Linked DNA regions of Homo sapiens: region 2 is linked to region 1. Evidence: fine-mapped expression QTL. A gene starts in region 1. The other region holds a variant in brackets. All regions are shown on one strand. Distances are from middle to middle. Region 1 holds the start of LINC02369 (long intergenic non-protein coding RNA 2369). Region 2 overlaps LINC02369 (long intergenic non-protein coding RNA 2369).

Region 1 (5,217 bases):
CACATGCATTCATCACACATGTACACATGACTCACATGACATACACACCCACATGAAGACACACACCTCTCACCCATAAACATATGTGTACACACAGATGTACATATGCACAGATATGTGCACCACACACTCACATACACATGCATTCATCACACATGTACACACGACTCACACAATGTACACACGACTCACACAATGTACACACCCACATACAGAGACACACGTCTCACCCATAAATATATGCATACACACAGATTCACACATGCACAGATACATGCACTATACATACACTCACATACATATGTATTCATCACACATGTACACACGACTCACATGACATACACACCCACATGAAGACACACACCTCTCACCCATAAATATATGTGTACACACAGATGTACATATGCACAGATATGTGCACCACACACTCACATACGCATGCATTCATCACACATGTACACACGACTCACACAATGTACACACCCACATACAGAGACACACATCTTACCCATAAATATATGCATACACACAGATTCACACATGTACAGATGCATGCACCACACATGCACAAACATACACATGCATTCATCACACATGTACACACGACTCACACAATGTACACACGACTCACACAATGTACACACACACACACACCTCTTACCCATAAAGTACGAGTAGACACAGATGCATGCATGCACATACACATGCATTCATCACACATATACACACAACTCACACAACATACACACCCACAGACAGACACACACATCACACCCATAAATGTATGCACACACACAAATGTATGCATGCACACGTGCACACACATGTATAGATACAAGCACAACACACTCATAAAGATACACACATACATTGCACCCATATTCATAACTCACATGATATACATGCCCACATACAGACACATTGCACTCACCCATAAACCCTCACATACACAGATACACACATTCTGGTACATGCAGCACACACACTCGCAAACACAGAGTCATCACACACATGCACACGACTCACACAATGTACACACCTGTGTATAGATACTACGTACCACTCACACATAAACACAAACATACTTGCAGGTACACACACGGATACACACTACAAACACATCTCCACATACACATATGCCACACAGACTCACACATACATATGCAGTACACATACATACTTCTGTTCATGCACACACACTTTTACATGCTCATGTGCTCACTCCACCACACATAAACCACACATTTACACATACTAACACATGCACACACTCACACACATAAACAGAAGCTCGCACACACAGGAATCACACGCGTACATGCACACACGGGTATTGCCAGCCTGCACGCTCCCAAGGAGGTTCATACTCCTGTCTAGATATGTGAAGAGACTGCACCCTATTTTGCACCCTTGCTCGTGGTCAGGTTTTGGGGATGGCTCCCCTATTTAGACTCTTCCTCTCACGAAGCTGAAAGGAAACGTTCACTCAGGGCTTTCTCTCATCACTGTAGGCTCTGAACTCCCTCGCCCTTCAGGTCAAATAACGTGTACCCTGCTGGTTCCGGGAAGCGCTGCTATCACAGAAAAACACACCCGCTGCTCCAGCCCTGTGGGAATACGGCACCGCATCTGCCTGTGGTCTCTGTCCAAATTTCCAAAGACAATGAAAAGTAATGGTGACGATGATGTCGATGATGACGAAAACAATAATAAGTGAGAAGAATCGCTCACTAGGTCCCAGGCACATTGCCAAGTGGCTTACATATTGTCTTCTCCTATGATAAGTATTTTTAGTCCTTCTTTCATAGATGAGTAAATTAAGGTACAGAGATGACAAATAATTGGCCCAAATCCAATAGCCAAGAAGTCACAAAATCAAGATTCACAACAGTTCCCTTTGGGTCTGATCCTAGAGTTGTACCCTTCCCCATTCCATGGCATTAGGGAGGCGGAAGGGAACTCCCTTTCTGCTTCCTGGAATCCAGGCTGGCTTGGTGACTTGCCGACCACAGAACGCTGTGGAAGGGACATTCTGGGGCTTCCCATCTCCAACATAAGAAGGTAAGAAGGCTGCAGCTTCCACCGGGCCTCTTGGGCTGTGTACTCTTGACACTCTTGCTCTGAGAACTAAGCAGGCATATTTCATATCAAAATAGTAAAGAACTTCCTTTCCAAAGGCAGGACTTGCTTCTGTGAGGTACTGAGCCACCCGTCCCTGGAGGAAAGCAAGAACAGAGCAGATCAGAGCCCAGGCAGACATCTTGGATGATGGGTGAGTGCGATCGGCTATGTGGCCCGAGTCTCATATTCGCAAGAGACTTCACATGCAACTTTTGAAGTTCAGAACCAGGACGCAGACAGTGAAATGATTGAAGGAAGACATTTATCAAAATTTCCTCCCACAGGGCTCATGGCCAGACTTCATCACGTGCAGGGGTCATGTAATCTTACCACATTAAGTTACTACACTCACGTCACTGTGCACTCTGTGGGAGTGTGTCCCCATGTCAACTTGTAAATATATAAGTGTATTCTACATTACTTCAAAGCCCGTTTTGTAATTCCTTCATTAAAAAAAAGAAGTTTTCGGCCGGGCGCAGTGGCTCACGCCTGTAATCCCAGCACTTTGGGAGGCCGAGGTGGGCGGATCACGAGGTCAGGGGATCGAGACCATCGTGGCTAATGTGGTGAAACCCCGTCTCTATTAAAAATACAAAAAAAAGTAGCCAGGCATGGTGGCGGGCTCCTGTAGTCCCAGTTACTCGAGAAGCTGAGGCAGGAGAATGGCGTGAACCCGGGAGGCAGAGCTTGCAGTGAGCCGAGTTCTCACTACTGCACTCCAGCCTGGGTGACAGAGCAAGACTCCATCTCAAAAATAAATAAATAAATTAATTAATTAATTTTAAAAAAGACATTTTCTTAGAGCCTTAAAAAGTTATTGGGGGCTGAGTGCAGTGCCTCACGCCTGCAATCCCAGCACTTTGGGAGGCTGAGGCAGGTGGATCATCTGAGGTCAGGAGTTTGAGACCAGACTGGCCAACATGGTAAAACCCTGTCTCTACTAAAAAAAAATACAAAACATTAGCCAGGTGTGGTGGTGGGCACCTGTAATCCCAGCTACTCGGGAGGCTGAGGCAGGAGATAATTTGAAGCCAGGATGCGAAGTTTGCAGAGCTGAAATCATGTCATTGCACTCCAGCCTGGGCAACAAGAATAAAACTCTGTCTCAAATAATAATAATAATAAATAAAAATAAGTAAATAAAAGTTATTGGGCCCTCCCTTTGTGCATCCTCTGAGAGGTCATGGGCTGGATGACCAGGCGGTGTGGTTGTGCTGGAGGGGACTTCAGCGTGGAATGAGGGGTGACCTGCTGGTGATCTTTCTGCTCTCAGCCGCTGTGGTCTTCGGAGATGAGACGAGGCAGATGCAGTGAGATTGTGCAGATAATGTCTCCATCAGGGGATGAGTTGCTATAGCACCCAGAGTGATTTCAGGAACAAAAAGGGTCATGCCCTAGCCTGTCTTCAATGGCTCATAGCAACCCCTATTGCCTCATCACCCTATTCTCCAATATTCCTCTAATATCTTCCATTGTGGAGACATCCAACATAAAGTAGAGTAGAATTGATTCAAAAACACTGCTTGAACTGCCTAAATTAGAATCATTCTTAGCTTCTCAACATACAAATATAAGATAAAGGAAAAGAATGTTGTTCCCCTCCCTGTGTCCATGTGTTCTCATTGTTCAACTCCCACTTCTGAGTGAGAACATGTGGTGTTTGGTTTTCTGCTCCCGCGGTAGTTTGCTGAGAATGATGGCTTCCAGCTTCTTCCATGTCCCTGCAAAGGACATGAACTCATTCTTTTTTACGGGTGCATAGTATTCCGTGGTGTATATATGTCACATTTTCTTTATTCAGTCTACCATTGATGGGCATTTGGGTTGGTTCACACCAGGCCTTGTCAGGAGGGAGGGGTGGGGAGGAAGGGGCGAGAGAGCATTAGGACAAATACCTAACGTACGCGGGGCTTAAAACTTAGATGACGGGTTGCTAGGTGCAGCAAACCACCATGACACATGTATACCTATGTAACAAACCTGCACGTTCTGCACATGTATCCCAGAAATTAAAGTTTTTGAAAAAGAAAAAGAAACTGCATTAAAAAATTAAATGAAGTTATGAATATATGTTTTTTGTTTAATCAGCAACCCCTCTACTATTCTGGTAGAAGCTGCTCAATTTGCTTCGAGGATCCAGACTCCCTCCCTCCCAGTCTGTGTGTTGGGGCCTAAAGGATGTTCACTCACCCACCTTTCCTGGCTCCAGAGCTGTTTACACTTCCCAGGATGGTTTTTTTTTTTCCTGTTTGTTTTGTCTTCTGCTTATAGGTGAGATCTTCCTGGGGTTCTTGCTGTACCTGCTGACAAGGGGCAGCTCTCTCTAAATGCCACGGAGCTGGAAGGCTGCAGCCTGGAACTTGCTGCAGCCCACCCAGGCAAGCAAGAGATGACATAGTTTCAGCACCTGGATCTATGGCACCCAGAAGCCAGATCCAACCCCCCAGCCCTTATCTTTGACCTTGAGCCAGTCTGAACTGGTAACTGGAAGTCACTTATCTACCAGATTCAACTATCAGGATGTTACTAATAAAAAATGACTCCAAAAATGAAAATGTGTTTCACAATATTTTCATGCAAAGACTTCGGGATCTATTTATACTCGACACCAACCATCTTGGTTATCTGATTTTTTAGTTCTCAGCAGCTGCTAAGCTGTAAATTAGGAGAGGATGCTAATGGTAGCCACACGGAGAGTAAGGAGAGTGATGGTCTAAGGGAGGAAAAATATCTGAATAGACATTTTTCAAAAAAGACTCAAATGGCCAAAAGTTGGAACTTGGATAAGTCAGTAAGGTTTCCAAGCATGGAGCTTGCATGAGTCAGCAAGGTTTCCGAAGCATGGAGCTTGACTTGGGAATGGGTTGGGAGCATTTGTAGGAAGATAATTTCTTTTCCTTTTTTTAAATATGAAGAAATGGGCTGGGTGTGGTGGCTCACGCCTGTAATCCCAGCACTTTGGGAGGCCGAGGCAGGTGGATCACTTGAGCTTAGGAGTTTGAGACCAACCTGGGCGACATGGTGAAACCCCATCGCTACCCAAAATTACAAAAATCAGCCGGATGTAGTGGCTCACACCTGTAGTCCCAGGTACTC
Region 2 (5,217 bases), 30 kb after region 1:
ATGGAAAGTGTCCACATGCGGCTGCTGAGCATGGAATCTGGAGAGAAGGAAGGGTTGACTGCAGTTGACACAACAAGTGTTGGCCACCACCTTCACCATCCCCTCATCTAGAGCCCCCCATACCCAGGTTCCCCACTCCAGTGTGGATTCAGCCCTCCCTCCACCATGCCCACATTCACACGGAACCTCCATCCCCTCAGCTTCTGGCACCCAAGGCAAAGGCCTGAGGAGCACAGCCATTCCACGTGACTCCAACATTTATATTATGCTGATTGTGTAGCTTCTTTTTTTCTTTTTTTCCACAGGTTCTTGGTCTGTTGCCCAGGCTAAAGTGCAGTGGTGCAATCACAGCTCACTGCAGCCTTGAACTCCTGGCTCAAACGATCCTCCCACTTCAGCCTCCTGAGTAGCTGGGACTACTTGTGAGCCACCACACTCAGCTAATTTTTGTATTTTGTTGTAGAGACTGGATTTCACCTTGTTCTCCAGGCTGGTCTTGAACTCCTGGCCTCAAACTATCCACCTGCCTTGACCTCCCAGAATGCTGGGATGAGAGGCCTGTGCCTGGCCAATTGTGTGGTTTTTGATGAGCCCGCAGAAGACTCTTCAGAGGACTTTTGGGTTTTAGACGAGATTCCTTAAATTGTTTTTTAATGTAAACCCCTCCCAGTTTAATGAACATTCAAAACTACTTCCCCAGGGAGTTTATGGCTTTCCAAGAGCTTTGGGAAAAGGAGGAAGAGTTGCCACTGTTTGACTGACCAGGAAGCCCTGTCTTCTGCAGTTGATTGTCCTGGCAGGCCATCCCCATCCTTCTGGGCTCAGGTTTATGCTCAGATGCCTGGCATCCCACCATTGGCAGCTGCCTGCCTTCAACATTGCCCTGGCTGGGTTTCCACTTTAGAAGCAAATGCAGCATCTGCAGGAATGGGAAAGAAAGTAACACAAGTGACTCTGATGTATCTCACAGTGACCTCAGGGACACTTCATTCCTGGTGGGGTCAATGGACAGAGAATCTTGGATGAAGAGGAAGCATCACTAGAGTCACAGTGGATGTTGGGCTTGGATTCTACAAACAACACAGAGGGAGAAACTGAGATGGTCAAAATAACTGAATAAAACTGAATCAACACAGCAGAGGAGTTATCCTTCTCAGGAAGATGCACAGCTGCTAATGTTGTAGGCACAGGTTTAGGGCACATGCTCTATGAAAAATACAAATCTTTAAATATTAGAATAACACAATACAGAGAGAGATGCTACCAGCAGGAGAGGCCCCAGAAACTGCAGCCAAATGTAGATGTCTCATCCCACTCCCCAGGGCAGAGGACTGAGCATTAATGAAATTAAGTATTTCTTGTTCTAAGTTCTCTCTCCAATTGAGCTGTAAATACTTAATTTATGTTTGGTTGAGTGTAACATTGCTCCATTGGATGGTGTATTAGTCTGTTCTTCCACTGCTATAAAGATACTATCCAAGATTGGGTAATTTATAAACAAAGGAGGTTTAATGGACTTACAGTTCTGCATGGCTGGGGAGGCCACAGGAAACTTACAATCATGGAAGAAGAGGAAGCAGGCACATCTTACATGGCAGCAGGAGAGAGAGAGAGAGAGAGTAAATACATGAAGGAGGAACTGTCAAACACGTATAAAACCATCAGATCTTGTGAGAACTCACTCACTATCACAAGAACACCATGGGGGAAACCGCTCCCATGATCATATCATCTCCCACCAGGTCTCTCCCACAAAACCTGGGGATTACAATTCAAGATGAGATTTGGGTGGGGACACAAAGCCTAACCACATCAGATGGACTGGGGAAGAATTTTAACTAAAACCAATAAGCAACCAAGAAACTGAGCAGGAGTTGTGAGTGGGAGGCGGAGGACCCTCACTCCAATTTACTAAAATCATAGAACAGCAGATCCAAAGAAGGCGTCAGGGTCATTTGCTCAGTGCCCCCGCCCCCACCTTGACCTGAGATTCTATCCCCAGCAGCCCTTTCCAGAGCATGAAGATTTTGCGAAGTGGAGAGAATTATACAAAATCACTTGATGATAAATACTGGAGGTGGCTGAAATAACTCGTGTTTTCTTTGTTTTTAAGGAGCTGCTTTAGGATGGAAGATGAGGCTTGCTTTTTCTTTCTCCTAGAAGTCAGCATTTTACATGATTCTGGGAGGGAAGAAAGGAGACAGGAACCAAGGAGCCTGAGTGGGGATTTGCCCACCACTGGTAAGGCCCTGCCTCCACTCTGAGCTGTTGCCAGGCCGTGAGTGAGCCTGGTGTGCTATGCAAGGTGTTTGGTTTCTCATCTGCACCCCTTCATCCCATCTCACCTGGACCCTTTTTCATCCCAGGAGCTGGCCATATGCTGTGTTATGACTCAGGGCAGGAATGTTGCACCAGAGAGAAAGGAGTTTCTTTGATTTTTAAAATTTGGGGAAGGAATAGTGAATCGTCAGAACACAAGAAAAAAATATTTATTAAGAGTCACAATTCCTGCCTCAAAAAAATGGAAAAGGATTTATTCTGTTGGAGGTGACAGTAAAATAGAATGGTGAAAAGAATTGGGAGAATATGATGAGCGGGACTGAGGGGAACTGGTTCTAAAGGACCCCAGGAAAAGGGTTCAAATGCCTTCCCTTCCCTTGTTTATTCCTAGG[G/A]CAGCCAGGCTCCCGTCAGGAAGGCTTTTCAGAGGGAGTGTTGGAAGGAGTCGTCGAGGAGTCTTCCTCACCCAGGAAGTCTTCCTCACCGGGTGAGCCCCAACCTGCTGGACCTGCTCAGAATTTGCCCAACAGGGGATCCTGGTTGACTGAGGTCTGCTAATTCCAACTGGCCTACGCTAAATTCTCCCAGAATGTCTTCATCATCAATGAATCGCTTTCCACTGACACGACGCCTGGAAGAACATAAACACTGTGAGGATAAATGCCAATGAAATAATAATAAAATAAACTTTCTTTGGTGGCCAGAGGGAAACAGAATGCCTACCCATTTCCCCACCCCCCGCCCCGCCGCTGCCCCTTGCAGGATTTCTTTTAGAAAACTAGTATTTGTAAATCATTTTCCTACCTATTGGAGATGAGTGCCAACCTTTTTAAAGGCCAAGTGAGCCTCTTTTTTTAATACTCTAGGAATGCGTCTTGGAGGGGTTGCAGTCATCTTTTTGGGATCTGAACATTCATTCACAGCTGTCAGCTTATGTCCTTGTATCTGACGGCACTGACCTAGGTGCATGGCTGCCAGAAGTAACTTCCTGCTTGTCACAAAAATGCAATCTCCTGCCTGCCCCTGATTCTCCCCAGCCCTGGCTTTGGATAAAGACAATTAATATGAACGTGATGAATTGCGTCTCTCTGGCTATGTAAAAAAGGGATATTTATTTCCACTTTTGACTCTAAAACTTTGAGTTTGTTTGTTAACATGGCAAAACAATTCTTTCTGATCAAATCATCTACACACAGGTGCACTCAGGTATCTTACAAAAATGGATTCATGAACACTTAATGCTTTTAATCAGCTTTGTTTCCCAATGAAGTATCTCCTAGACACATTTTCTATTTACTTCTTGATTCATTTACATATTTATTTATAAAATATTATTGAACAAGATTATTAAAGATGATGGTGAAATAACAGTAAATAAAGAAACCAATGACAATTCCAGTTGATCCAGGCAGTCGTTTAAAAATGTATTCACCCAGACTCTTGTCATCTTGTTTGCAGATTGTCGTTGGAAATGCATTTTGCCCAACTTTTTTATTCTTAAGGGAAAAACTATAAAAAGAAAGCTGCTCATGATTTGGATTCTTTCAGATATAAGTTTTACTTTGACATAGATTCATGTTAACTCAAGAAATAAATTCACAAATAAAATACAGGATCAGACGAGCCTTCCTTGTCATGCTTTGAAGGAAATGTTTCCCATAAAGTTATGTACCTGATCTGTGATTAGAGAAATTGGTGTTCCAATTTAGGTACCTGTTATTTTTTAAACGTAGTTGCTTTAGGGTTAATATAGAAGGTTAGGCCAGGCGTGGTGTCTCACGCCTGTAATCCCGGCACTTTGGGAGGCCGAGGAGGGTGGATCATGAGGTCAGGAGATCGAGACCATCCTGGCTAACACGGTGAAACCCCGTCTCTACTAAAAATACAAAAAACTAGCTGGGCGTGGTCGCGGGCACCTGTAGTCCCAGCTACTGGGGAGGCTGAGGCAGGAGAATGGTGTGAACCCGGGAGGCGGAGCTTGCAGTGAGCCGAGATCACGCCACTGCACTCCAGCCTGGGCAAGAGTGCAAAACTCTGTCTCAAAAAAAAAAAAAAATATATATATATATATTTATATATGTATTTATATATATTTATATATATATGTATTTATATATATTTATATATGTATTTATATATATTCATATATATATTTATATATGTATTTATATATATTCATATATATATTTATATATGTATTTATATATTCATATATATATTTATATATGTATTTATATATATTTACATATATATTTATATATGTATTTATATGTATTTATATATATATTTTTATATATTTATATATTTAAATATATTTATATATTTATATATTTATATATTTATATATATTTATATATATTTATATATTTATATATATTTATATATTTATATATTTATATATATTTATATATATTTATATATTTATATATATTTATATATATTTATATATATTTATATATTTATATATATTTATATATATTTATATATATTTATATATATTTATATATATTTATACATATTTATATATATGTATATGTTTATATATATTTATATATATTTATATATGTATATATTTATATATATTTATATATATTTATATATGTATATATTTATATATATTTATATATTTATATATTTATATATATTTATATATATTTATATATATAATTATTTATATATATTTATATAATATATAACTATATATTATATAATATATAGTATATTATATAATATATCGTTATATATTATATAAAATATTATATATATTATACTACATATAATATTATATATTATATATTATATAACAATATATATCATATATTATATATTATATAACAATATATATCATATATTATATATTATATGACAATATATATCATATATTATATATTATATGACAATATATATCATATATATTATATAACAATATATATCATATAT

What was found. PIP is the estimated chance that this variant, and not a neighbour inherited with it, causes the effect. A credible set is the group of variants that fine-mapping cannot tell apart.
Region 2: its variant is the best candidate, but not a certain one, in a credible set for the expression of LINC02369 in testis (GTEx, PIP 0.75).

What each region holds. Positions count from the first base shown.
Region 1 is chr12:128,114,969-128,120,185 of GRCh38, reverse strand. It overlaps LINC02369 (long intergenic non-protein coding RNA 2369), which reads left to right and starts at 2,045. Exons shown (of 5, transcript NR_104647.1): 1 at 2,045-2,061; 2 at 2,178-2,272. It overlaps LINC02368 (long intergenic non-protein coding RNA 2368), which reads right to left and starts at 1,969. Exons shown (of 3, transcript NR_104648.1): 1 at 1,409-1,969.
Region 2 is chr12:128,084,753-128,089,969 of GRCh38, reverse strand. LINC02369 (long intergenic non-protein coding RNA 2369) reads left to right here. Exons shown (of 5, transcript NR_104647.1): 4 at 2,114-2,241; 5 at 2,672-2,988. Among named protein-coding and RNA genes, the nearest start is that of LINC02369, 31 kb to the left of the region's middle. The variant G/A (reference allele first, on the strand shown) is at 2,673.